Linked DNA regions of Homo sapiens: all the other regions are linked to region 3. Evidence: fine-mapped expression QTL. A gene starts in region 3. Each other region holds a variant in brackets. All regions are shown on one strand. Distances are between the middles of the regions. Region 1 overlaps EML5 (EMAP like 5). Region 2 overlaps TTC8 (tetratricopeptide repeat domain 8). Region 3 holds the start of EML5 (EMAP like 5).

Region 1 (10,887 bases), 140 kb before region 3:
TAATTTTTATAAATATCATTTATATAAGGTATATCATTGCTGAAAATAAAATTATACAACTTATAAAATTATACAAGTTGAATGGATAAGTTTTAGTAAAGCAGTTACTTATACAGAGTAAGTCCAATAATTAAGATGTTATTCATTTCAGTGATACCAATTCCAAAGGAAAAAAATGTGCAAAACTGTGAAGAGAGGTAAAGAACACTAAGTAACAGTATCCCATTAATGCTAAATATGGAAGATGACAAAAATACAAAGTTAGGCTTTGTAAACACAGCAAAGAGAGGATTACCTGGAACCTCTTTTCAGCAGCAGATAAAGAGGGAAAAAGATTACAACATAAATTTGAATTGAAAACACTAGTGAAATACCTCCTGTAATAAAATATTTTAACAAGTTTAATGCAGACAGCTATATTGCATAATATTAAAGGCCTGTTGTTTTTAGTTTATAATCCCAGCACTTTGGGAGCCCAAGGCAGGAGGATCACGAGGTCAGGAGTTCGAGACCAGCCTGGCCAACATGGTGAAATCCCGTCTCTACTAAAAATACAAAAAACATTAGCCAGGCATGGTGGCACGCACCTGTAATCCCATCTACTCAGGAGGCTGAGGCAGGAGAACTGCTTGAACCCAGGAAACGGAGGTTGCAGTGAGCCAAGACTGCATGCGCCACTGCACTGCAGCCTGGGCGACAGAGCACGACTCCATCTCAAAAAAAAGAAAAAAAAGAAAGAAAAAAGAATAAAGAAAAGGCATAAGGCTGGGCACAGTGGCTCACACCTGTAATCCTAGCACTTTGAGAGGCCAAAGCAAGAGGATTGCTTGAGCCTGGGAGTTTGAGACCAGCCTGGGCAACACTGTGAGACCCCATCTCTATAAAAAACACAACAATTAGCCAGGCCTGTGGCACCTATAGTCCCAGCTACATGGGAGGGTGATGTGGGAGAATCACTTGACCTGGAAGGTCAAGGCTGCAGTGAGCTGTGATCACATCACTGCACTCAGCCTAGGTAACAGAGTGAGACCGTCTCAAAAAAAAAAAAAAAAAAAAAAAGGGTTACTCCATTAATTAATAACAGGGAATCACAAGAAAGGTGAAAAAAGAAAAAAACAAATAAATGAGAATTCAATATATTTCATGTTGTGAACTTTAAAGCTTGCCATTCTTATTTTTCTGCAATATAATCTGAATTTTAAACAAAACATTTAAGCTTATTTTTGTTTTTAAGAATGGGCACTGGCACTAAAATGTTAATTTAAAAAGCTGGTAGCACTGGAGATACTTCAAAGGAAATTGTCTAAAGAGCCTAAGTTCCACCTGTTCTGACCTAAGAGGGTTCCCCAGTCAGTGAATCCAAGCAGGCAGAATTAGTCACTCGGGACTATGCTGAATTTAGAATTTTGCTAGTAAAAAAAGTAATCTTTAAAAAGTTTTTTTTCTCTCTTAATAGCATAATGATCAAAACAAAATTGGAAGGAATCATGAAAGTCATTTCATCCATTTTCCCACTGAGACCAGGAACCTTCTTTACATGTCTAGAACAATCATTGTACAGCTTTGATGACAACTAATCATCTAAACTCTGTATAAATACTGCTTGTGACAGGTCTCTTCTACATAAAAAGCCATTCATATCCAAGATAACAATGATATCTCCATTTAGTTTTCTTGTTTTGAAACAAGATTCCCAGAATAATAATTATTATATTTTTTTGAGACAGGGTCTTGCTCTGTCACCCAAGCTAGAGTGCAGTGGTGTGATCATGGCTTACTTGAGCTTTGACCTCCCACGCTCCAGACATCTTCCTGCCACAGCATCCCACGTAGCTGGGACCACAGGTGCACACCACCACACCCTGCTAATTTTTAAAATTTTTTTTGTAGAGACGGTGCCTCATCAGATTGGCTAGGCTGATCTTTAACTCCTGGCCTCAACTGATCCTTCAAACTTAACATCCCAAAGTGCTGGGATTACAGGCATAAACCACTGCACCCGGTCAATTAACTATTCTTTATATGAAGTGGCCTCCCAACCTCCCTTCCTCCTGTGCTTTCTTCTAGCCCATTATAAACTATCCAAGTCTCCTTTAAAATGTAGAGATCAGTACTGAGTAAGCTATTCTAGATGTGAGGCTAGATCCGGGTGCTTTATTTCTGGTAAAATAGTATAAGATTTTATGGCCCATTTTAGAGGTTGCTTCATACTCTGAACTCATATCTTTGTACACACCACTCTGCTTAAAACAGATGATGGATTCCTGCTGTAGATATAATATTAACAGGTGCCTATTATTTGAGTTTCTGCACCATCTGGTCTCAAGTCTACTGTTTTCATCCTTATCTCCCAGCATTTTCCTAGTGATACCTTCCTCCCGCCACCCCCCACCCCCGAAACAGGGTCTTGCTGTGTTGCCCAAGCTGGAGTGTAGTGATGCCATCACAGCTCACTGCAGCCTCAAACTCCCAGGCTCAAGAGACCCTCTCACCTCAGCCTCCTGAGTAGCTGGGACCACAGGGCTGCCACCACACCCAGCTAATTTATTTTTACTTTTATTTTTTGTAGAGACAGGGTCTCATCATGTTGTCTAGGCTGGTCTTGAACTCCCAGGCTCTAGCAATCCTCTCACTTCGGCCTTCCCAAGTGCTGAGATTACAGGCCTGAGCCACAATTACAGGCCTGAGCCACCGTGCCCAGCCATGATACCTTTTTTAATTTATAAAACAGACTAGCCATTTCCACACTGTCGTTTCAGAAACTCTTTCAAGACATTTTCACATCACCAAAGGTAGATATAAAAGTAACCCAAAGAGTCTTTACCTACATGTCATTTTATTAAACATACAAATACCATAGTTACCCTCTTTTCATCTTTTTAAATGAATGGATTAAACATGCATTAAATCATGTTAACAGGTTTAAAATTGAATAGTCTTTCACTTAAATATATGTGTGGTTAGGTTTGTTTTTACGAGCCTCTGAAACTTAAAGAAAACCAAAACTATTCATTTGCATTGTAGTAGTTTGTACAGTCATATGTAAAACAATTTATCATAATGAAGACCCTTATAATAACAACCATATATGCTATCTAAAAATGCAACTCTTTTATAGAATTTGTCCTACTTCATTTTATAATGCTTTGTTGACAAATGTAGTTAAATGTTTTATAGGGAAAAAATACCTTAAAATACCATAAAGAATAAAATAAAGGGTAAATTTTTGAATAAAATATTTTCTTTTATAAAACACTTACCTTACTACTCCCTGCCTTCAAAAGGAGCAAGGGGGAAAAAAGTAGGAAAACATATAAAAATTGATGATGAATAGAATACAGCATTTTAGCAAACAGAAGAAAGGCAACATGTCAACAGAATTTTAAGGAAATACAAAAATGTCTAACTTATGTCACATTGGTTTAAACATTGATTTAAATATTTTTATTCACAAATACTGGAAATTTGACAAAAATTAACTACTTTAAATACATAATATTTGTTATAAAAACATTTATTGGCTGGGCAAGGTGGCTCATGCCTGTAATCCCAGCACTTCGGGAGGCTGAGGTGGGTGAATCACTTGAGGTCAGGAGTTCGAGACCAGCCTAGCCAACATGGTGAAACCCCGTCTCTACTAAAAATAACAAAAAATAACTGGGCGTGGTGGTGCCTGCCTGTAATCCCAGTTACTCAGGAGGCTGAGGCAGGAGAATCATTTGAACCCAGGAGTTGGAGGTTGTAGTGAGCCAAAATCGTGCCACTGCACTCCAGCCTGGGCGACACAGCAAGACTCTGTCTCAAAAGAACAAAACAAAACAAAAAAATAAAAACAAAAACATTTATTAAAAAAGAAAAAGGTAAAATTATCACTTAGGAAAAACATCCACGAAAGTATCAACCAAATAGAATGGTTATTGTCATCAGAAGCATTTTTCCTTTTAAGTGGATATTTGATAAGTATTTAATTGTTTTTAATTTTTTTTTCATTTATTTATTCTCCCAGAGACAGGATCCCACTCTGCTGCCATAGCTGGAGTGCAAGGGTGCGATCATAGCTCACTGCAGCCTCCAACTCCTGGGCTGAAGCAATCCTCCTGCTCAGCCTCCTGAGTAGGAACCTCCTGGTACAGGCATGTACTACCATTCTTGGCTAATTTTTCTATTTTTTGTAGAAATGGGGTCTTGCTGTGTTACCCAGGCTGGTGCTAAACACCTAGTCTCAAGCAGTCCTCCCACTTCAGCCTCCCAAAGCACTGAGATTGCAGGCATGAGGCACAGCACCTGGCCTGTTTTCCATATAAAGTGCTTTATTTCATATTTATGACAGTAATATATGTTACTAAAAAGCAATTATTTAAATAAACCATGAACCATATTATCTCCTCACAAATATTCTAAGTTGGTAAAAGAGATATGAACCTCTTCATTTGTAATCTCCTTTGATTTTTTTTCATTTTGTGAAAATGAAATCACATT[G/A]ATGACTTCTGCCTTGTCATTTTCTTTTTTTTTTTTTTTTTTTTTTTAAGGCAAAGAGTAGAGCTTGGACTCTGCCACGGGGGCCAACAGACCCTCTCTCTCCCTCCCCACACCTTGTCATTTTCAAAATATTTAGCAGGGTTGAAATTGTAAAGTAAATTGAGAACAAAATGCAAAGCAATTTGAAAAATTACTTTGAAAAAGTTAGCTGCAGAATATACAAGCTAACATCAAAGATTTCAGTTATGACAGTGTTAATCATTCTTCATGAGTAGTAAAATATTTCCATCTGTCAGAACATGCCTCACTTCAGCAATGGGTGGAAATTTACATTTAAGTGTTTTACCGTGAATGAAGCAGACTACAGATTAAAATTAGGTCACATTTTCTGACATACCAAATTTATCCAATAAATAATTTTTTTAAAAAATCAATATAACAAATGAAAGAAATTTATGGGAATGTCTAGAGCCCCTTCTTCCCCATAGAACACTTTTCACTTTTCATTACTTAGGAGACATAATTTTCCTTAAGTCATATTAAACACTACACTTCAAATATTCTAATTAGAATATTTAAATAATATTATATTTTCATATTTATCTGTATTTATCTAATAAATACATATGTAGCGCTTATTGCTTTGTGAATATTTAATTTCAGAAATAATGTTTAAGTATTTACCAGGTATCTCCTCAGTTAACTTTCATTTCATTCCAAGGGATAAGGTGTCATTAATGAAGACCTACTATCTAAATTCTTGATTTACATTATTTCATTTAAAACTTGAAATATACCATAAGTTAGGGATTATAATGTTCATTTTGCCACTGAGGAAACTGAGGTTCAGAAAGAATGAATAATTTTTCAAACTCACACAACTGGTAATGAAAAAAATGAGTATTTTACCCATTTGTCTGACTCCAGAATTCATGTCCTTTGCACTATACGATGCTGCATTCTAGCAAGTTACTTGAAACATGGAATTCTGTACAAGTACTTAGATTATGGTATACTGTGCTTTCTTAAAAATATCCCTAATTTAATACTTTGCCTCTTTATACATAATGAAAAACTGGATGATCACTCTCCATCCCCTTTCCTTAGGTGACCTCCCATTGCTATGATCTGAGGTACATGAGGTATACCATCAGCAAACGACACCTGGAAAAGGAGCTGAGGAGGCACTGCGCCCTTAACACTCCATCTAGACTTCCCTGGCAACGCGGGGGTCAGTCAATTTACAAGATCTCTCAGTTCTCCCTTCCCCATTACTAACGTGTTTTTCACCTTAACTTCATCCCTTTCCCCGAATATAAAATCCATAGGTGCAAACTCAAATCCCTCTGACGAAGCTTTCCTGTAGTCATTTCTATCTCTCTGAGTTCCAAAATTCTTCAGCACTATCCTAAATGGCCACAAATTCGCTTGAATTTTCTACAAATCCTGTTCAACTGTGAATGAATTCCCTTTTAATTTCTCCCTCAAATTGTCCACTAACTTCTCATAATAAAGTTTTCCTCACCACAACCTTGTTCTCACCTCCCACTCCCTCTGTTCCTTCTTACTGTTTCTGGATCTTTTCCTTTTTTGTTCTTTAAACCTCTTTGCTTCTGAAGTCCATGCCATTCAATGCTCCATATCCCTTTTTATTGTTTACCACCTTTGATTTTGAAACACTAGTTTCACAATTTATTTCTTAATCTGTCATCTAGCTCAGAGACTTTATTAAAAAGTGATCTCTAAATTACTTTGGGCAGTATGGCCATTTTCACGATATTGATTTTTTCCTATCCATGAGCATGGAATGTTTTTCCATTTGTTTGTGTCCTCTCCTATTTCCTTGAGCAGTGGTTTGTACCTCTCTTTGAAGAGGTCCTTCACATCCCTTGTAAGTTGTATTCCTAGGTATTTTATTCTCTGTGTAGCAGTTGTGAATGGGAGTTCACTCATGATTTGGCTGTTTGTCTATTATTGGTGTAGAGGAATGCTTGTGATTTTTGCACATTTATCTTGTATCCTGAGACTTTGCTGAACTTGCTTATCAGCTTAAGAAGATTTTGGGCTGAGACAATAGAGTTTTCTAAATATAAAATCATGTCATCTGCAAACAGAGACAATTTGACTTCCTCTTTTCCTATTTGAATACCATTTATTTCTTTCTCTTGCCTAATTGCCCTGGCCAGAACTTCCAACAATATGTTGAATCAAAGTAGTGAGAGACAGCATCCTTGTCTTGTGCCGGTTTTCAAAGGGAATGCTCCCAGTTTTTGCCCATTGAGTATGATATTGGCTGTGGGTTTGTCATAAATAGCTCTTATTACTTTGAGATATGTTCCATCAAAACCTAGTTTATTGAGAGTTTTTAGCATGAAGGGGTGCTGAATTTTATCGAAGGCCTTTTCTGCATCTATTGAGATAATCATGTGGTTTTTGTCATTGGTTCTGTTCATGTGATGGATTACATTTATTGATTTTGGTATGTTGAATGAGCTTTGCATCCCAGGGATGAAGCCGACTTGATTGTGGTGGATAAGCTTTTTGATGTGCTGCTGGATTTAGTTTGCCAGTATTTTACTGAGGACTTTCACATCGATGTTTACCAGGCATATTGGCCTGAAATTTTCTTTTTTTGTTGTGTCTCTGCCAGGTTTTGGTATCAAGATGATGCAGACCTCATAAAATGAGTTAGGGAGGAGTCTCTCTTTTTCTATTGTTTGGAATAGCCAGAAGAATGGTACCAGCTCCTCTTTGTACTTCTGGTAGAATTCGGATGCGAATCCATCTGGGCTTTTTTTTGGTTGGTAGGCTATTAATTACTGCCTCAATTCCAGACTTTGTTATTGGTCTATTCAGGGATTCCACTTCTGGTTTAGTCTTGGGAGGGTGTATGTGTCCAGGAATTTATCCACTTCTAGATTTTCTAGTTTATTTGCGTAGAGGTCTTTATAGCATTCTCTGATGGTAGTTTGTATTTCTGTGCAATCAGTGGTGATATCCTCTTTAACATTTTTTATTGTGTCTTTTTGATTTTTCTCTCTTTTCTTCTTTATTAGTCTGGCTAGCAGTCTATCTATTTTGTCAATCTTTTCAAAAAACCAGCTCCTGGATTCACTGATTTTTTGAAGGGTTTTTTGTGTCTCTCTCTCCTTCAGTTGTGCTCTGATCTTTATTTCTTGTCTTCTACTAGCTTTTGAATTTGTTTGCTCTTGCTTCTCTAGTTCTTTTAATTGTGATGTTAGGATGTTGATTTTAGATCTTTCCCACTTTCTCCTGTGGGCATTTAGTGCTATACATTTCCCTCTAAAGACTGCTTTAGCTGTGTCCCAGAGATTCTGGTATGCTGTATTCTTTGTTCTCATTGGTTTCAAAGAACTTATTTATTTCTGCCTTAATTCTGTTATTTACCCAGTAGTAATTCAGGAGCAGGTTGTTCAGTTTCCATGTAGTTGTATGGTTCAGAGTGAGTCTCTCCATCCTCAGTTCCAATTCAATTGCACTATGGTTTGAGAGACTGTTTGTTATGATTTCTGTTCTTTTGCATTTGCTGAGGAGTGTTTTACTTCCAATTATGTGGTCAAATTTAGAATAAATGTGATGTGGTGCTGAGAAGAATGTATATTCTGTTGATTTGGGGTGGACAGTTCTGTAGATGTCTATTAGGTCCGTTTGTCCAGAGCTGAGTTCAACTCCTGATTATCCTTGTTAATTTTCTGTCTCGTTGATCTAATATTGACAGTGGGGTGTTAAAGTCTCCCACTATTTTTGTGTGGGAGTCTAAGTCTCTTTGTAGGTCTCTAAGAACTTGGTTTATGAATCTGGGTGCTCCTGTATTGGGTGCATATATATTTAGGAAAGTTAGGTCTTCTTGTTGCATTGATCCCTTTACCATTATGTAATGCCCTTCTTTGTCTTTTTTGATCTTTGTTGGTTTAAAGTAGATTCAATGCTATCCCCATCAAGCTACCAATGACTTTCCTCACAGAATTGAACTACTGTAAATTTCATATGAAACTAAAAAAAGAGCCCATATAGCCAAGACAATCCTAAGTAAAAAGAACAAAGCTGGAGGCATCATGCTAGCTGACTTCAAACTATACTACAATGCTACAGTAACCAAAACAGCATGGTACTGGTACCAAAACAGATATATAGACCAATGGAACAGAACAGAGGCCTCAGGAATAATGCCACATATCTACAACAATCTGATCTTTGACAAACCTGGTAAAAACAAGCAATGAGAAAGGATTCCCTCTTTAATAAATGGTGTTGGGGAAACTAGCTACCCGTATGTAGAAAACTGAAACTGGACCCCTTCCTTATACCTTATACAAAAATTAACTCAAGGTGAATTAAAGACTTAAACATAAGACCTAAAACCATAAAAACCCTAAAAGAAAACCTAGCTAATACCATTCAGGACTTGGCATGGGCAAACACTTCATGACTAAAACACTGACAGCAATTGCAACAAAAGCAAAAATTGACAAATGGGATCTAATTAAACTAAAGAGCTTCTGCACAGCAAGAGAAACCATCATCAGAGTGAATAGGCAACCTACAGAATGGGAGAAAATTTTTGCAATCTATCCATCTGACAAAGGGCTAATATCCAGAATCTACAAAGAATTTAAACAAATTTACAAGAAAGAAACAACCCCATCAAAAAGCTAAGGATATGAACAGACACTTCTCAAAAGAAGATATTTATGTGGCCAAAAAACATGAAAAAAAGCTCATCATCACTGGTCATTAGAGAAATGCAAATCGAAACCACAATGAGATACCATCTCACATCAGTTAGAATGGTGATCATTAAAAAGTCAGGAAACAACAGATGCTGGAGAAGATGTGGAGAAACAGCAATGCTTTTACACTGTTGGTGGGAGTGTAAATTAGTTCAACCATTGTGGAAGACAGTGTGGCAATTCCTCAAGGATCTAGAACTAGAAATACCATTTGACTCAGGAATCCCATTACTGGGTATATACCCAAAGGATTATAAATCATTCTACTATAAAGACACATGCACATGTATATTTATTACAGCACTGTTCACAATAGCAAAGACTTGGAACCAACTCAAATGTCCATCAATAATAGACTGGATAAAGAAAATGTGGCACATAAACACCACGGAATACTATGCAGCCATAAAAAAGGATGAGTTCATGTCCTTTGCAGGGACATGGATGAAGCTGGAAACCATCATTCTCAGCAAACTAACACAGGAACAGAAAACCAAACACCACATGTTCTCACTCATAAGTGGGAGTTGAACAATGAGAACATATGGACACAGGGAGGGGAATATCACACACTGGGGCCTGTCAGGGAGTGGGGAGCTAGGGGAGGGATAGCATTAGAAGAAATACCTAATGTAGATGATGGGCTGATGGATGCAGCAAACCACCATGGCACATGTATACCTATGTAACAAACCTGCACGTTCTGCACATGTATCCCAGAACTTAAAGTATAATTAAAAAAAAGTGATCTCTCCTCATAAAATGGCCTTGCATATGTCCTTACTTTTTTATTTGCTGATTCTAGACTAAGACCAATAATTCCCATTAAAGACAACCTGCCTTTTTAGAAAATTTTTGAAATGAGGACTGACTATGCTTAAAGAAAGGCACATGGATAGGCAGGCCTTTTCAAAATTGAATCACAATACTGCTCACATACTTCTTAAAAAGTACTCGGTATTGGATTCAATTTTTATTATCTCCTCCAACCTCATCACACACATTTATAAAAGTTAGCAAATAAGATGAATCATATCAACCTTATAAACATGTATAAATCCCTAAACCAATAGTGTTAACACATAGTGTTACCATCAATAGGGTTTTGTTTTTGTGGGTATTTTTTTTTGAGACAGGGCCTCATTCTGACACTCAGGTAGGAGTGCAGTGGCACCAATCATAACTCACTGCAATCTCAACTTCCTGGGCTCAAGCAATGCTCCTGCCTCAGCCTTTGAAGTAGCTGGGGCTACAAACACACACCACTAAACCTGGATTATTTTTATATTTCCATAGAGACAAGGTCTCACTACATCACCCAGGCTGATACCAAAAGGTATTTAAAGACAGACATACTTTCTAAGAGGTGCTGTGAATTGTCTATAGCAAGAATATCACTGTTACTTAGTTTGTGTAAAAAAGCCACTTAAATAATAAATTCCATTTTTAATGACAATATCTTTTTCTTCATCTAATACTAAACTAAATTATTACCTTTCATCAATTGAGGGTTCTTTTTGTTGTAAATGAGGCTTGATTCCTAACATTGGGCGAATATTTGTTGATAAGGCTCTGATGGTGTAACTGATTTCATTCTCCCTTGTAACATCACTGTCATAGCCTACAATAAAAATATACGAGTAATTCTTTAAGCAAT
Region 2 (8,000 bases), 42 kb after region 3:
AACATATCGTGTGATTATCTAATTGGTTTCCTCTTTGGGGCCATGGAGACTTAGCCAGACTTAATCCTTTGATTCTATACGCTGTGGGGCAGGTCATTTTATGAATTTGTATTCCTGCTGAATTACACAGATTACACTCCCACTTGGCTGCGTGGTCACTAGATCTCTCTAACCTTCTGAAATCCATCAATTCCTCTATTCTCTTAAACTTTTTCCCCCTTCTTTTATTACTAAATTTTGAACAATGACTCGGCAGTTTAAGCTGAGGAGACTCATTAGCCAGCATAAGTAGTGGTGGTAATTAGAAAGTTGCATTCAGAATTATCTGGAGATTTAATTCCCTAAAGTAACAGAAACAAGCTAAGAAAATGCTGAACCCTAGGGTGGAAGGAAGGAAGCAAACAGATGTGACTTGAAGTTGATGCTAATGGGTATTTTCTGGTTCTAGGAAGTGGCACTCTACTTTCCATGTCCTGTTACCCACTTTGAGGGAGATTCAGAGGAAGTTTTAATTTGATCTTCCATCACTGGGAGTCAGTTCTGAGTTCTGAAAGGGGGAGTAATAGATGGTTTGGTGCTTCTGTTAAGCTTATACTTGAATAAGTATGATAATATATGTGAAAGAACTCTAAAAGTTGTGAAGTTTTCTTAAAAATGCAAGGTTTTATTATTAGTCCTTAAGATTCTCCTATGAAGTAGGTACTATTGCTTTAATTTGAGAAGGTAATGTAGATTATATGACTTGTTCAAGGTCATGCAGCTAAGTGGCTCCCTGAGGATCAAGCCTAGCCCACGTCTTCTGACTCTAGGGCAAAGCCTGGAGCTTTCTGCTCAACTGCGCTGATACCTGTAGAAATAGTTTGCTAGACTAAGTGAAGCTGCACGGGTGGATTAATTTAAATCACAGAACTACAACTGAGAGCGACCCAAAGAGGAAAGGCTCAGTGATTTTTAAAAAAGAGTTTTCCCCTATCTCCTAATTAAAACATTCCGACTCTTCCTTCATAGTCCTGCTCCTGATGGATCTCCACAGAGCCATGCCTGTCCTTGGTCTCTCCACATCCTACGGTAGTCTGTGTTCCATCCTTGCTGTCATCCCACATACTCAGCAGAGTCCTGCTCTGGGCCCAGAGTGTCTAGGTTCAAATACTGCCTCTATACCTTTGAGGTAAGAGACCAACAGGACTTGTTTTCTGGTCACAACACGGCTGACCAAAATAGGATCTAGTCTAGACAGGTTAAAGTGAAGAAACCAGCAGATGGCAAGGAAAGCGACCCCTCGCTGCCCTCACTGCTCATCAGTAGAACACCCCTCCCACCAGCTGCCATGACAGTTTAAAAGTGCCATGGCAATGACCCAGAAGTTACCACCTCTTTCCATGACAACAACCTATAAGTTACTGCCCCTTTCCTAGAAAGTTCTAAATAACTTGTTCCCTAATTTGCATTGGCCCACCCCTTAATTTGCATGTAATTGAAAGTGGGTTTTCATGAGTATAAATACAGTTGCCAAGAGCCCATAGTTGCTGATTCTGGCTACACTGCCTATGAGTTAGCCCTCCTCTGCAAGGAGCAGTACCAGCCAATAAAGGATTGCTGTCTAATACCACTGACTCACCCTGGAATTATTTCCTTGGCAGAGCCAAGAACCCTCCTGGGCTAAGCCCCAATTTTGGGGCTCACAGGTCCTGTAACATCTTGCTCTGAGTGTTCTCATCTGTAAATGGTGATGATAGTATACCTATAACTCAGAGGGTGTTATAAGGCTCATGAACATGTGGTAAGTGATAAAAAATGTTAGCTGCTGTTGTCTGTATACCTACAGATATTTGCATGCAGGATTCTATCATCTATATTTTTCTTAAAGGATTGCTGGGAATCTGAAAAGCATTTTTGAGGAAGATGTCCAGTGAAATGGATGGTGAAAGGATGTTGAATATAGTTCATAAATCATTGGCACTCAATAATTTCCAGAATAATCTCCCCCTTCTCTGACTCTCTTATCTTCCATGTCTTCTGCTTTTCTTTTGTTCACCTAAGTCATCTATAATTTGACCACAATGTGAGTATAGTATTTGACACATTGTATTGTAATTTAGGTGCCTCCCCCTCTAGAATGTTGTGGAATTAATGTGTTCTTGGCCTCATACCCACTTAGGCCTGGTCTCCATTTTCCTTCAATGCAATCCCTCACCTGTCTCTGCACCTCCCTACTCATTAGGCCTCTCATTTTCTCTTCTGACCTGCACATTGATGATTTCCTGTAATTTCCCTACACACTCTTCATCCACATGATCAGCCCTAAATGTATCCCTGAAGGGCAGAGGAACAAGACAGAGAGATCGCGGAGACTTTCCTCAGTGAGCAGAAATCCTCTGAGGCTGAGCTGGTGGTTTCATTTTGTGTCACTGGAGGAATCTACCTGCCCTTGGCAAATCACAGCATCCAGTATCAGTGGCTTCTGTCTCCTTTAGCTGTTTTTTCCTTTTCAAGCATTGTCTACAATCACCTCTAGTAAACTTTCTCCCTCAGTTTTCTATAATATATTGGATTTATCTTGTATCTCTCCTAAACTTTACCTTTCATTCCTGCCTTACTATGTCCAACTCTCTTTTTTTTTTAATCTCCAAGAGGCACTGGCAAGAAGGAGCATTTGATTCCCTCAACCGTTTGTGTGACCTTAAACAAATTACTTAACATCTCTGAATTTGTTTCCTTATCTGTAAAGTAGATAATACTTACCTGCTTTCCTCAGATGGTTGTTATGAGACTCAAATGAGATAATGGGCTATAGAGATATGTATACAAGTAAACAGAAGAAAGAAAGAATAGAATGTGTTACTTCTTTCATCTGGCATGTCATTCCCTGGATTGGTGTGTTTCCTTAAGTTTGGACTGTATTTAGGAAATCTATACTTTTTCTACATCCTTGGTAGGTGCACTGGAGTTGAAAACCTCCAATTGCTATGTGTTCTCTAGTTGCTGTTTTGTGTTCGGTTCAGTTGATTGCCACATCTTCTGTAACTTCCATCCTTTGGGGCCCTCATTTTCTAGCCTAACTTAACCTTTTCCTCTCATGTTCCTACCATGCGTCATGTTAAATAAATTACCTGTCCTTGCATGGTGACCATATGGTTTGCACATTGCTTGTACCAAGAATATATTCTTAAAAAATATTTGAGGTGTTCTTTTTGGATTTAGAGCTGTAGAAAGCAAGGATCTTTTTTCCTTTTTCTGTTTCTTAGTACTTTCCCCAGTAAAACAGATTGAGTGCTCAACAGACATTGCTGACTAGACAGACATGTAAGTGTAGATGTTTTATAAATAAATTTGTTATAAGTCTGATTTTTTTAACCAGTGGGTTTCTATTTAATTTGTACAGAAAAACCCAGATGCTGAGTTTATCTGAAGGGTTTGTGTTATGTGGATTTTCCTTCTTCTCCTTAAGTGATTAAAGTCTGAATGTTTTAACCACCGTGAACTTATTTTTGAATAAAAGGAAATATTTCCTTGGTATAGTTATGGGATTATTCTCAATTTCTGATATATTGTGTGTTCATTAAACAAGTAGTTATCATCTCTTTGCACTTTGAATGAGGTTAGATTAATTAGAATTTTCTGATCATTGAAAATTTAGCATTCTTCAATGTATATTCATTTTACACAACTCTTGAGAACACTTCTGTAGGAAGACTAAAGTTAATTTTTTGGATTCTTATTGAATGAGTTAGAGTTCACCTACAAATACTTGGTT[G/A]GTCCTTAGGACTTTTTATTTTAGAAACTGTATTTCTTAAAACTGTTTACTGCCTTCTTAATGCTTTCCAGGAACCAGATCCTGAATTGCCAGTGCATCAGGTAAAGAAAGGTTTAGCTGCAACCTTTAGTTTAGAGAATTCTTTAATGCTATTGCTTAGTTGTTGCTATAGATTAGAAAATTTGCTGCATATCTTCCTGTGGGTTTATAAAATTAGCCATATCTGTCAGACATTCTGTGCCTTCTTATGTAAATAAATGATTATATTTTCAATACTTTTGTGTATATTGATAGCCTTGTAGAACTAATAATGCAGTCTACTCATTGGGACTTGGAGCTTAAATGGAAATGACCAAGATGGATTAGAAGGATATGAAAAATAAAGAAGGAGGTGAGGGGAACCAAGGGCTTAGAAAGGGAGCGGGAGAGTCAGCGGAATGACAAATGTCTGAAAGACTGTGATGGATGGGATGGCATGTCTTGAGTCAAGAGTGGACTGTGCTTGGGAAGGTCTTGGTTTTAACTGACCTGGTGGCTCTAAGAGGGAGGAGGCTGCCACAGTGAGGGAAGAAGAAAGGGACACTGGCCAGACAGTCACATCGAGCAAATCAGTTTGGATAAGGATAGGAGGCAGCTAGAGCCTTGCTAACTGGATAAAACACAAGAGAATGAATTGGGAGGAAACCCTGGGAGAGAGGAGGGGGACACCTGGCCAGTGATACTTTTAATCCAGGAGAGTTGCCAGTGAGTCTGGGACTAAGGAGAGAAGTTGTGCAGAGTTATAAATCAGAGAGCTTAAATGTTGCCAGGTGTTAGCCCTACCAAGCGAGATGGAATGTTAACAGCGGTTTTTTTAGGTAAATAAAAGACTTGAACCTTATTAGGGGTCCATATGTGTAATTAGCAAACCTTTTAGAATAAAAAGCAATTTACAAAGTACTCTTATGGAGGCTTGTGTAGTATTAAACACACACTGTAAATAGGTTAAAATGTGGCACTGTGTTCTTTAAAAGGCTGACATTTGTCTTTTGAATGTTCATAATCTTGATTTACAAACTGATAGATGGGGCAAAACTATTTTTTTTTTTGCATAATATGGGTACAAGTCATTCAAGAAGGATCAAAGTTATAAATACTGTGGATTTTGTTCTCAGGAAATTTGGAAGATTTTGATTAAAATTTAAAACATCAATAATTTGCATTGTAGAAATGGTTTTAAAACTATAAATGGCATTTAAGAGCTTTAAACTAGCACAAGGACTCATGAAAAATCTGTATTTGGCATTATTTTCCTGTTCTGTTTGTATAGACTTAATTATTCACTGGATAATGATACAAAAGGGAACAAGGCTGACTAGATTCTTTTGGCCTTACTATTTCCACTTTTGGAATTTCTTATTTTTGCACACTGTTACAACTTCAAAAGGAATGAGGCTATATACAATAACAATTCAGTATCTTGTGCCTAAGTTTTCATTTTCATAGAGTAGGCAGAGTGGCCATAGTTACTGAGTCTTATGATGCTAAATCAGGTCAGACAGACTGTTCCTTTCATAGCCTTATTCTAATAATAACCTAAAATTGTTTCTTACATGCTTTAATCTACTGGCCTTGCATTCTGTATTAAGAGTAACAGAATAATTTAAACATGCTTTGCTCAGTCAGCAGAGTTTTAACCCCTTCATCTGTTTATTTTTATAACTAAAACTGAACTAGTGTCACAGTGGATGGAATGAGTGAGTCAATATTTTCCTGATGTTTGCTGGCAAGTATCTGCTTCAGGAGTAATGTCCTATAGACTAACTCAGTTGGTGAGTGAGATGGGATTGTGTTTCACAGATAAAAAGGGAAAAATTGATATGATTATTCATTTGGTTTGGGAGAATCTGTGCTTTTCCCTTAAAAAACAAAGTTCCAAAAGCATCAATTCTTATTTTTATTGATATTATGGTACTTCTAATACATAAATATTTAAATAAATTTACATAAACTATTTTTTAAAAACTGTGTGACCCTCCCATTTGTTAATAAGTAAACATATCTGATAAGGCAAATTTATATTTTTATTTAGTTTTAAGGGGTAGTTTGGGATTACTGTGTGTGCTTTGTTATTCATTTTATTTTAATCACTGATTAGTTTTAAACTTTTTTTTGGTTTGTTTTTTTAAAACAGGCAGAGGATTTTAGGGATGTGAAACATACTTGGCTTGTTTCCAAAGTAAAAAAAAATTATTATTTTTTTAAAGCCAAAGCTCCTTCTGCTGTTTTCATTAAAATCTCAAGAATTGTTCACATTGCCAGGAGCAGTTCTTTGAAAACAGTCTGATGTTTAATCAAGCAGTGATATGTGATTTTCAAGGTCATTTTTGTTAGGACAGAAGAGAACTCAGGAAGATTAATTTTCTCAAACACTGATAAAATTTAAAATTGAATAACAGTCTGAGTAGATTTTATTCTAGAGCTGTAAATATCAAAAATTCATACCATTGTTTCTTAAGAATCATATTTTAGAAATTAAATTAATATTTTTCTATCTTTTTGAAAAAGTGGATTCTTACGGAATAAAAATTTTAAAAAGATATTCCTAGCCTTGGTGCAGTGGCTCACACCTGTAAACGCAGCACTTTAGGAGGCCAAAGCAGGAGGATCACTTGAGACCAGGAGTTCAAGACCAGCCAGGGCAACAAAGTGAGATCCCATCTCTGCAAACAAACAAACAAAAAAAGCTGGGTGTGATAGTACACACCTGTAGTCCTAGCTACTCTGGAACCTGAGACCTGAGGTGGGAGGTGGAAGGATCACCTGAATTCTGGAGGTTGAGGCTGCACCACTACATTCCAGCCTGGGAGATAGAGTGAGAGCCTGTCTTAAAAAAAAAAAAAAAAAAGTTCCTATTTGACTTTGACTTCGGAAGTATTTATTCATATTGCAGGGAAGGAAGAGTGGATTTTCTTTTCTATATTTTGCTTAGCCTAATATAAAAAATTTCTAACTCTTTAATATTTAAGACGTCAGTTGGGGGATGGATGTCAAGAATCATGATGAATTGGACTATGAAATAACAGTATGAATTTGAAAATAGTTAAAAGTAAAATATATTAATAACCAACTATATAAATGCTGCTATAATGATAAAACTTGATGTTTAAAACTTAAGGCTGGGCATGGTGGCTCACGCCTGTAATCTCAGCACTTTGGGAGGCAAAGGAGGGTGGATCACCTGAGGTCAGGAGTTCGAGACAAGCCTAACCAACATGGTGAAACCCCATCTCTACTAAAAATACAGAAAATTAGCTGGGCGTGGTGGCACGTGCCTGTAATCCCAGCTACTTGGGAGGCTGAGGCAGGAGAATTGCTTGAACCCAGGAAGCGGAGGTTGCAGCAAGCCGAGATCACGCCATTGTACTCCAGCTTGGGCAACAAGAGCAAAACTCCATCTCAAAAAGTAAATGAATAAATAAATAAATAAACTTGATTTAGGTAGGACTCCAAATCATAGTTCTGAAGCCTCATTAGCTTCTCATCAGGATAAAAATTTACATACCTCACTGCGGCATACAGGATCCATCACCTGGCTCCTGACTTTTTCTCCAACCTCTTCCCTCATTCTTCACCTACACTCAATTCTCCTAGAGTTTCCAAACATGCCATAGGCTCTCTAGCTAGCCTGCCTATTGTCCACTTTGCCTGTCCGCTGGGCCCAATTCTTCACTTCTACCCTTCCTTCCACTCCCAGGTAGCTGGACACATTTCCTCTGTTCTATCACACACTTCTTTTTGTTTTTCATTTTTGTTATTACATTTTTCCCATTACATGGAAATTCTTTCCAGTTAGAACTAGGACTATGATTTACTCCTCTTTGTATACTCAGGATGTAGCATGCAGTAGGTGCCCCCTGGTAATATGGGAATGAACAAGCAGAGCCCATGTTGTGCTTTGCTGTTCCAACAGAAAATGCTGTAGTCCTTCCTGTCCACCAGAGAGTGCTGAGCAAAGAATGCTCTTTTGAAAAATCAAAGCTGTCAGATACTGGCAGGGCAGTATGACCTGTAGAGATTTAATATAAATCAGTATTGCCTATTTCCATCTTTGAAGTTAAATTAGAACATTAGCTCAAGCCATTGAGGACTTCCCCGATCCCTGGGAACAGTTGTATAGATATGGTATTGTTCCTGATCTTTGATGAGTGAAAACCTGAGATTTTTTTTCTATACTTTGTTGGCTCTCACAGTTCCAATTGGAGTT
Region 3 (10,887 bases):
TTTCCTCCCAGTCTCAGGTATCTCTTTATCAGCAGCATGAAAACGGACTAATGAACCAACTATGTCAAATCATGATGAAAAATCAAATAAGATGAGAACTGATAACCACTGGATTTGGCAATGCAGAGGTCACTGGTAACCTCAACAAGAACTGCTATGGTGAAACAGAACAAAGCCAAGAGTAAATGGGAGAAAAGGAACTGAAGATAGTATAAGCAAATTCTTCAAATATTCTCTCATAACACAAAACCACTGCACACAATGTTACCTCTTCCCAGAATGCTATACCTTCTTTCATTTCTTCTGATGACCCTTCTCCCTATTGTCCTCAAAGACTTAGCTTAGGTATTATATTCTATAAGAAACACTGTGAACTTTTTATATCCCCATGTACATACCATATCACAGGTACATTAGTGCTATTCCTAGTATACATATGCTCATTGAGCATCTGATTGTGTCTAAACTCTGAGTATCTTAAGGCAGGGATTCTTGCACAAAACAGAAGCTCAACAAATATTTCTTGGATGAGAAAACTTTGAAATAAAAGTTCTTAATAGCTTCTAATAATTCATTATTCCACGTTTTCCTTAATGTATATCCAAAACATGTTTTATTAATTGTCTGCATATTTGCACATAAGACATTATAAAATAATAAAGGAAAATAATTAAATGTAAATCTAATAATCTGGCTTCTCCCTAAAGAATATATACTTAATACACATCTATTACAACTTCAACTATTATTCTAGTTAATTCCTACTTTTCCTGGAAAACATCTCTTAATTTTATCCCTTAAATTATGCAATATTTAAAAAACCATAAATATTTTGATATTGCAACACATAAAATGAAATCTTACCAAATATAATTGTTACATGGTCTATAAATAAATGTTAAGTCCATCTAATTCTAGTTACTTAAGCACAGGGACATTTTATTAAATATGTTTTCTAATACTTTTTGAAGCACTACTTCTACATATTGCACAGTGCTTAAGAAAACTCTGGTATCAGGTTTGAGGAGAGGGTTTGTGCCCATTTCTCAAACGGCTTGTGTTAAGAATTCTAGGCATGGTGGGGGCAATGTGTTTCCCAAACAGAATAATCTGAGGCACTTTTTAAAAAATAGATTCCTGGGCTCCAACCCTAGAAGATTCTGACTTTGTGCGTTTGAGCAAAAGGCTAGAAACTGGTGAAAAGCTCTTCAAACTATTTTGAAGATAAGCCAGGTTTGGGAAATCATGAGCATGTATCTAGAAGCATTAAGTAGACTACAAGTAGGTTTCCAGTAATTCCTACCAGAGCTTAAAAAGTTGCTACTCTGAACCCATATAAACACAAAAAAAATCTATCTACCGTGCAAATGTTATTCTGAATCGCTTTTCCAATTACAATTTTGACTTGCGTTGAATAAATTAAGTTTCTATACCATAAATACTGAGCTGTCAAAAACCACTTTTACTAAACTACAATAAGACTTGGTCAGTATTTTTTCTTAAGAACACGATTTACCACAAATAAAGAAAATAGCTTCTACACCCTTCATTTTGTCTTTTAAAAAAGCCATACATAGAAGCAATGAACAGTTATTATTTTAACCTGCAACCATATAGTGTGGTATACTTTTCAAAATATTTCAGATGCATCGTCATTTGAGCTCATCACCAACTGGTGAGACCCTTTCACTATGTTAAAAAAAAAAAAAAGTACTCTAAATTCTATACCTACTTAATACATAAACAATGGGCTCTGACTCCCATAAGGAAAGCAGAGTCAAATAACAAAATGCCCCAAGTTAATTATATTCCATCAATGGTCTTCACTGGTATAGATTATTTGTAAACTCTCAATAATATCCTTAAGAACAATCTTGCAAAAATTTGCTTACGGGAAGTACCTAGAATAATAAATTTGAAAAGATATTGCACTCTGGCTGCACACGGTGGCTCACATCTGTAATCCCAACACTTTGGGAGGCGGAAGTGGGAGGATCACTTGAGCCCAGGAGTCCAGCACACCAGCCTGGGCAACATACAGAGACCCCATCTTTACCGAAAAAAAAAAAAAAATAGCCCAGCATCATGGCCCACATCTGTGGTCTCAGCCACTTGGGGAGGCTGAGGTGGGATGATCACCTGAGCCCAAGATTTCAAAGATACAGTGAGCAGTGATTGCACCATTGCACTATAGCCTGTGTGACGCAGAGCAAGGGCCTGTCTCAGTTTAAAAAAAAAAAAAAGCTATCGCATTCTTGTAACAACTGGCAAAAGTTTCAAAATATAGACCAAGGTATAGATGTGCATCTTATGCTAAAACTGGTAGTAGCTTATTTTATAACTTAGTCTTAAATCTAGACTAGAGATTTTTATAGATACAGATTTTATAGATTTATAGATTTTATATTGATAGAATAACTGGAGAATTTTATCAATATAACTTGAGAAAAAGAACAAAAAAGTGACCCCAAAAGCCCTATATTATTTCTGACATTGAAACTAATTGCCATATAAACCAGTTACTAAGATAAATATAACTAAAAGATAAATGACTAGAGAAGTATACACAAGTAGATGGCAAAAAGAAGATGGAGAACTACAAGCAACACTGAGAAAATGATGAAATGTCATGTGGCACCACCACTGGCAATCCCAGGTGATAATAAAATGGTCAAAGAACCAGTAAGCAAATGATAGACTAGTCATGATTCAGCCTTTACTGAGAAAATGATGAAATGTCATGTGGCACCACCACTGGCAATCCCAGGTGATAATAAAATGGTCAAAGAACCAGTAAGCAAATGATAGACTAGTCATGATTCAGCCTTTACTGAGAAAATGATGAAATGTCATGTGGCACCACCACTGGCAATCCCAGGTGATAATAAAATGGTCAAAGAACCAGTAAGCAAATGATAGACTAGTCATGATTCAGCCTTTACCACCAACATTGCACTCACATTTTCAAAACCTGAGGACAATGATCTGCTCATTCTGGAACAGTTCTATCCTCAGACTAAGTAATATTTGACCAATAAGTTTTACATAAGTTTCAGGCAAAGGTGGAAACAAAACAGATGATGAAAACAGCACTGACTTTTTATTACTAAAGCTAAGGTTACAGCAACATTGGTTTTCACTATGCATCACATTTGTGAATATTACATCTTCTGCTGTGGCATAATTTAAAAATTACTAGAGTTGTTTCTATACTCACAAGTCAAACACTGAACTGAAAAAATATTGAGGTTTTAATATTAGCTCAATATATTTCACAAACATGAATGATCTGTCATTACTATTTGAAATAAAATGTCCAGAGCCCTTTCACTGATTCCTAAATTATATTCTCAGTATCATATTAAATTTGTGCCACCAATTTCAAGATGCTGTATGATTCAGATTTTACTCCCTCATTGAAACTTTTCAGGAAACTTATTTTCATTGTTATACATTAAAGATGTGTCATTTGGATAAAATCATAAGCATGTATATTCAACGATGAGAAATTCGAGTATGTTTGTTGTTTTGTATAAGTTGTGCAACTATACCAAAAGAAAGTCAAAGCATTACCTTCCTTACAGTTTACTGAAACACAATTATGAAATTTAAGCGGTGTGACATATAACACAGCTTCTAATTACTGCTAGAAGAACAAGATGTAATTTACCTCACCAAATAAATCATATCTAGTTTCAGAAGACCTTAGTGCTATACTGCTCTCATAACCCCCAAGGAGTAAAAACAATACAAGTGTACCACGAGAAGACCTCAAAATCCTTCACATTTACTCCACCAGCTGAATTCAACCTAACAGACTAAATTATCTGGAGCAGGGCTTCAGTTAAGGCTGCTCCAGCTAGGTAAAGCTACTATGCCTGGTACTTTGGGAGACCTAGCATATGGAAAAGAAGGGAGACTTGAAAGGATTAGGGAAAAAGACAAGACACTGGGGTAAACTCTACTCTTGGGATAACTAAGAAGATAAATAATTACTACGGGTTTACTTTAGTTTTGTTTTTCCATCAGCAATTTGGGCTATTATAATAGGTCTGTAACCCTAATCACCACGATACAGAGTCCCAGCTTGAGAAAAATGAAATGACTTATCAGTTACCTTTTCAAAGTAATACATTAAATACAATCTGAAAAAGCACTCTGGTGTCCAAAAAACAAAAACAAACAAAAAAAACCAACTGAATACAGAGCACCACCTCATTCCTTACTCTGCAATCTCAATTTTGTCTTTTCTTATCTTTACTCCATCTTGCCCTACCTCTGTTTGTCCTAGGCATCCTTTCCCTCTTACATATTATAGATGTACAGAGACGCAAAACAGAAGAACAACTTTATTTGTGGAATTTACATACCAGGGCTTCTTGCCTACAAGACTTCAAACCAAGGTACCGTATTTGAAATGCCCAATTTAAATCCTGTGCAACATACATGAGGGAATAACATTTTGTAACCAAACCCAAATCGTAGAATCTTTGATAAAACCCCAAGAGCACCACACAAACACATTCTCAATTGCTTTTAATATATTTTCCTCTGTAAAGGACAAAAAATGCTGTGCTTGAGGCAATAATCAGTGGCCTAGAATGATTTCTGAAGCTCTTGACTTTACCATAAAAGTTGTACTAAGACACTGATTGAAAATTACATTTCAAATATACCGCTCACTAAAGAAATGTCAACAAGCTCTGGGACCAACTTTGAGTTATTGTCCAAGGAAGACTAAAAATAGCCCCCCAATAGCGATTTAATTTTAAGAAAATACAAAAGTAGCTTATTTAGGAGTATTTTAATGAAGATGAAGAGAACTGGAAATCAGTGAAGTTTTCAGCAGCCTCTTCAGATAAGACCTACCTTAAATTGCCTTCAGGTGTGCACATTTTAACATCCAGTGAATTGCCTGGAGGTTGCCTGGGGTTTCTGCTGATTATAGCAGGCGGTGAAACCTGAACTAATAATTACGGCCAGGAGGTGAGAGCCCTTCAGGACGCCACCCTGGGCGCGCTCCCCGGGAGCAGCCCACCGCTTGCTGTGCTTCCATCAGTCCTTTATTAGGTAAAGGGTTTCCCCCCACCCCGGGTGCTTTAAGAATGCGTTTAATAAGAAATTTCTCACAGGATCTAACGGAATAAAGTGCCACCAAAATAACCTTTTCGCAGTTTTCGTAATTGTGATGGAGTGGGAAAGGGGACAAAGCCGTCAAACCGGGTGCCCGGTGGATCCGCGGACCTGATCTTCCTGCACGGACCCGAGAGAGAGTCCCTAGACGAGGAAGAGGGGAAAGGCATTTGTAGGGTGTTAACTGGTGGACTCGGGACCAGAGAGACAGCTGCGGATTCCCCTCGGGGTGATGCTCCGTGCAGGAGCGGTCACGGCGTCCAGAGGAACCCGCGGGTGCAAACTCCGGGAGCGGCTTGCAGGGTGACGGCGGCGGCCCCCGCTCCCCGGTACCTGATGATGTCGTCGCTGTGGCCCCGGTAGAACTTCTGCCTGTGCTCCCGCGGGCTGTACACCACGCCGACCCCCGCCACGAAGTATACGATCTCCTTGGCCGCAGTGTAGTAGAGGTTGTTGCGGCACTGGTGGCCCCGGTAGCCGTACACCCACTCGAGCCGCAGGTGGCAGCTCGGGGCGCTCCGGGCCGCCATGTCGGGGCGCCCACCCGCCGCTCCCGCTCGGGCCCGCGGCGGCGACGGGAGGCGGCGGCGGCCCGGCAACGAAAGCCCTCCCGCTGGCTGCCGGGACTTCCCGCCAGCCGCGTCCTCTAAGCCGCGCCCGTCAGGTGCATCTCGTTTCGGGGGCCGCCGCCGCCTCAGCCCACAGGCGGGAGGAAAACCCTCGCCTCGCGGAACATGCTGAGGGCCGCGAGCGCCGCCGGCTGTCAAGTGGATGCCCAGAGCCCTTCGCCCGCCTCGGCTCGCCTAGTCTCCTCAGCCCGTAGCGCCTGGGCCGAGAGCGAGGGCCCGCCTCCAGCTCCTCAGCCGCCGCCCGCGCACGCAGCTCCCAGCCCCGGTCACCTGCGGCGCTCGCGCCCCGCCGCGGCTTTGTAGCCACAGCCTGGCGGACCCGCGCCGCGCACCCCGAAACCGAGCGAGCCGAGCCGAGCCGAGCCGAGCGGCGGGCGCGCGGCCTTGCGTGGCCCCGCCCCCTCCCGCGCTCACTCCGCCCCTCCCGGAGCCGAGAAGAGGCTGGAGTTCGCGGGGCCACGGTCTAGTTGCGGAGTCGCTGGGACCGCGTCTCTGCAAGTGCGCGGGCCGGTGAGCCCTCCCTCGTTGAGCTGCTTAAGCCCAGGCGGACCCTCGGCGACCCCGGGCTCCCGCTGCTTTGCGTCCTCAACCGGGAAGCACCTGCCGGTTCCGCACGGTCCCTGCACCCAGCGTAGGCCACGTTTTTGCCTGGGAAAATCCACACCGGGATGCTAAATTCTCTTTTTTACGCTTGATACCTTGTGTGTCTTGCTGCCTTATAGTGCTTTCGGACCCAGACATTGGAATGATGCCGAGCTTCCTAAATGTGCTTTTAAATTATTATTTTTAGAAACAGAGCCTCGCTCTGTCGCCCAGGCTGGAGTGGAGTGGCGCAGTCTCAGCTCACTGTAGCCTCCAACTCCTGGGCTCCAGCGATCCTCCCGCCTCAGTCTCCGGAGTAGTAAGGAGTACAGTTGCGTACCACTATGCCCGGCAAATGTTTTGCTTTGTTTTTAAGTTTATTTTGTAGAGGCGGGGGTCTTGCTGTGTTGCCCAGGCTGGTCTCCACCTCCTGACCTTCAGCAGTTCTTCTGCCTCAGGCCTCCCAAAGCGCTGGGATTACAGGCCCAATCCACTGCTCCTGGTCCTAAGTGTATGTTTTCTTAAGTGACCGCAAAGCTGAAGGTAGACTTTAGATGGTAAACTGACATGTGAGATCTGATTTCCGAATAGCAAAAAAAAAAAAAATTGTACTTCGATTTTTTTAAAAATGACTGGGACATCACCAACAGTTACTCTTAATTAAATAAATTCAATTGTGATCCTGTAGAAAACTCCTGTAATAAAAGTATTGGGAACAATCAATTCCTGACTATGTCATTTCCCCTCCTACTCAGTTGTGTCCTCTTCTCACAGGAATATGAACAAGATTTATCAATACCTCTAAAAATAATTGGAAATCCACAATTTAAAAAGTGTTAAGTTCAGGATGGCCACAAGATTTACAACAAAAAAATACTAATTCAGGATATACCAATATGAACCCTTATTGTCTAAAAATTACTGTTTGATTTCCATAGGAAATACCAAGACAGAAATCTGACAAAAGCTAAAATAAACTACCATCGTTTCAAGAAATATGACTCCAAAAGGGGTTGACTCCTGTGTGGTACAGATATATTGGAATAGATGTTATCCAATGTCTACTTCCTCAAAGATGCCAGTTACTAACTTGAGACAGGATTACCGTTTCGTCTTTGATTATGACTTCTAATCTGCAAGCAGTTTACATGCAGGAAATAAAGGCCATCTGAAAGGAATTTACATAGATGTCATGAAAAGTAAACTCTGAAAGAGTTTCCATTCTGGGCAGAATCTGAAAAAGAGGAATAGCTTTCTGGCAGCTGCTGCAAATAAACAAAGAAATCAGGCCTGAGAAGTGGCTCTAAGGCCCATGTAGGGTACCCTGGGCAAAAGCACACACAGTTTCTCTTTGTCACCAGGAGGGCGTTTTCTGTTTTTTAATAAGAATATGTTCTAATTCACTAGTGAGTTCCTTGAAATCCCCTGGTGAGAAAAAGAAAAATTGTTGATTATTTAAATTCAAGCAGTGAACTTAGAAAACATTAAATATTTGTTGCTATACATTTGTGATATATTAATTACTGGTTACATGTAAATTTTATGAGACGAGATGGAAGAATATAGTTTTTTCTATGTTTCGGATTTTTCAGCACAATATCTTATGGATCCCATGATACACACTTAAGTACTCAGATTAATAAGAGATTTAAGTAATTTATTTTCCCATTATCATATTTTCCATTACGATTTTAATGACCCAAGTGTAGAGTGCGAAGCAAAAACATTCTTAATTAAACCATCCTCAACTGGCGACTCAAGACCAAAAGAGACAGCCGAGGCACAAAGGTGGCTAGAAAATGAACCATTCATGAATACTAGAGGAAGAAAAAAACAAACCTGATCAGTTCTTACCCTCACAACTTTATATAATCCAGTATTACCAATGTCACATCAGAAAGCTTAATGAAGCTTCTATTGCTAGGTGATATTCCATCATCTGTATCCTGTGAAAGTAATGCAAATAAGGATGTGGGAGAAAGAAACAAAAAATTATACACATCAACAAATGGACATTTGTTAAGCATTCCAGACGAAGGCTGCAATACCCCCTGTATTCGTCCGTTCTCATGCTGCTAATAAAGACATACCTGAGACTGGGTAATTTATAAAGAAAAGAGGTTTAATTGACTCACAGTTCCGCATTGCTAAGGAGGCCTCACAATCATGGTGGAAGGCAAAGAGGAGCAAAGTCGCACATGGCAGCAGACAAGAAGAATTTGCGCAGGGGAGCTCCATTTATAAAACCATCAGATCTCATGAGACTTATTCACTACCACTAGAACAGTATGGGGGAAACCACCCCCACGATTCAATTATCCCCACCTGGCACCACCCTTGACATGTGGGGATTATTACAATTCAAGGTGATATTTGGGTGGGATACAGCCAAACCATATCACCCCCTTTGGTAATCTAGTTCCTGAAACTTGAGTTCCTAGTATGGAATTTGAGATATTTGAAATATTTCTAAAATTCAGGCAAATAAATCATGTGCTGGCTACTGATTAGGTACCCTTAGGTTTATAAAGAAATCTAAGGCAAAATGTAGAAAACATAAAAACCAAAATTCCCCAGCCTGGCCAATATGGCAAAACCCCATCTCTACTAAAAATACAAAAAAAAGTAGCCGGGTGTGGTGGTGCAGGCCACCATCTCAGAAAAAAAAAAAAAAAATTCATGCAATTACTTCTAGCTAGCATGGTGGCTCTCACCTCTAATCCCGGCACTTTGGGAGGCCAAGGTGGGTGGTCAGGAGTTTGAGACCAGCCTGGCCAACATGGTGAAACTCCATGTCTAGTAAAAACACAAAAATTTGCCAGGCATGGTGGCGGGCGCCTGTAATCCCAGCTACTCGGGAGGCTGAGACAGGAGAATCGCTTGAATCCGGGAAGTGGAGGTTGCAGTGAGCTGAGATCGCACCACCGCACTCCAGCCTGGGAAACAAAGAGTGAAACTCTGTCTCAAAAAAAAAAAAAGTATATATATATTATATATATATTATATGTTATATATATTATATATATTATATATATATTATATGTTATATATATTATATATATTATATATATATTATATGTTATATATATTATATATATATTATATGTTATATATATTATATATATATTATATGTTATATATATTATATATATATTATATGTTATATATTTTATATATATATTATATGTTATATATATTATATATATATTATATGTTATATATTTTATATATATATTATATGTTATATATATTATATATATTTTATATATATATTATGTTTATATATTATATATATTATATATATTATATGTTATATATATTATATATATTATATCTCTTATATGTTATATATATTATATATATATTATGTTATATATATTATATATATTATGTTATATATAATATATATTATATGTTATATATGTTATACATATTATATGTTATATGTTATATATATTATATATGTTATATGTTATATATTATATATATTATGTATATTATATGTTATATATATTATATATATTATGTATATTATATGTTTTATATATTATATATTATATATATTATATGTTTTATATATTATATATTATATATATTATATGTTATATATATTATATATTATATACATTATATGTTATATATATTATATATTATATATATTATATGTTATATATATTATATATTATATATATTATATGTTATATATATTATATATTATATATATTATATGTTATATATATTATATATTATATATATTATATGTTATATATATTATATATTATATATATATTATATGTTATATATATTATATATTATATGTTATATATATTATATATTATATGTTATATATATTATATATTATATGTTATATATTATATATATTATATGTTATATATATTATATATATAATATGTATATAATATATATAACATATTATATATATATATCTGTAGTCTTACCTTTGATCAGCCTATTGTACATGCAGAGCCTACCACAGTGCCTGGTACTACAATAGCTGTTCCCTACATATTTATCAACCATGAATTAGAAAAGAAAATGTTGTGCACAATCCTATTGTGTTGTGCACAATAGGATTCCTCTTAGTTTTATCTTGAATACTTGAAATCTTTGAAAACTTGGAAGTTTTCTTTCTTTCCTTCTTTTTTTTTTTTTTTTTTTGAGACAGAGTCTTGCTCTGTCACCCAGGCTGGAGTACAGTGGTGTGATCACACTTCACTGCAGCCTCGACCTCCCAGGCTCAATTGATCCTCCTACCTCAGTCTCCCAAGTACCTGAGGCTGCAGGCATCTGTCACCGCACTCAGCTAATTTTTTATTTTTTAGTAGAGGTGAGGTCTCACTATGTTGCCCAGTCTGGCCTCAAACTCCTGGACTTGAGCAATCCTCCTGCCTCAACCTCCCAAAGTGCTAGGATTACAGGTGTGAGCCAGCGTTAGCCACTATGTCCAGCCTTGAACCTTATTTGATATCCAATACTGTGTTAGTCAGGACTTCTTTGGTTGTACGTGACAGAAACCCACTCA

The links. PIP is the estimated chance that this variant, and not a neighbour inherited with it, causes the effect.
Region 1: its variant is the best candidate, but not a certain one, in a credible set for the expression of EML5 in lung (TOPMed, PIP 0.82).
Region 2: its variant is the best candidate, but not a certain one, in a credible set for the expression of EML5 in whole blood (TOPMed, PIP 0.63).

Annotation. Positions count from the first base shown.
Region 1 is chr14:88,646,652-88,657,538 of GRCh38, forward strand. It overlaps EML5 (EMAP like 5), which reads right to left. Exons shown (of 44, transcript NM_183387.3): 27 at 10,725-10,851; 28 at 3,261-3,275; 29 at 296-304. Among named protein-coding and RNA genes, the nearest start is that of ZC3H14, 89 kb to the left of the region's middle. The variant G/A (reference allele first, on the strand shown) is at 4,480.
Region 2 is chr14:88,829,868-88,837,867 of GRCh38, forward strand. TTC8 (tetratricopeptide repeat domain 8) reads left to right here. Exons shown (of 15, transcript NM_144596.4): 2 at 3,826-3,855. Among named protein-coding and RNA genes, the nearest start is that of TTC8, 9.2 kb to the left of the region's middle. The variant G/A (reference allele first, on the strand shown) is at 3,755.
Region 3 is chr14:88,786,841-88,797,727 of GRCh38, forward strand. EML5 (EMAP like 5) reads right to left here and starts at 6,113. Exons shown (of 44, transcript NM_183387.3): 1 at 5,467-6,113. The coding sequence starts at 5,663. RefSeq lists silencers at 5,624-5,703, 5,894-6,253.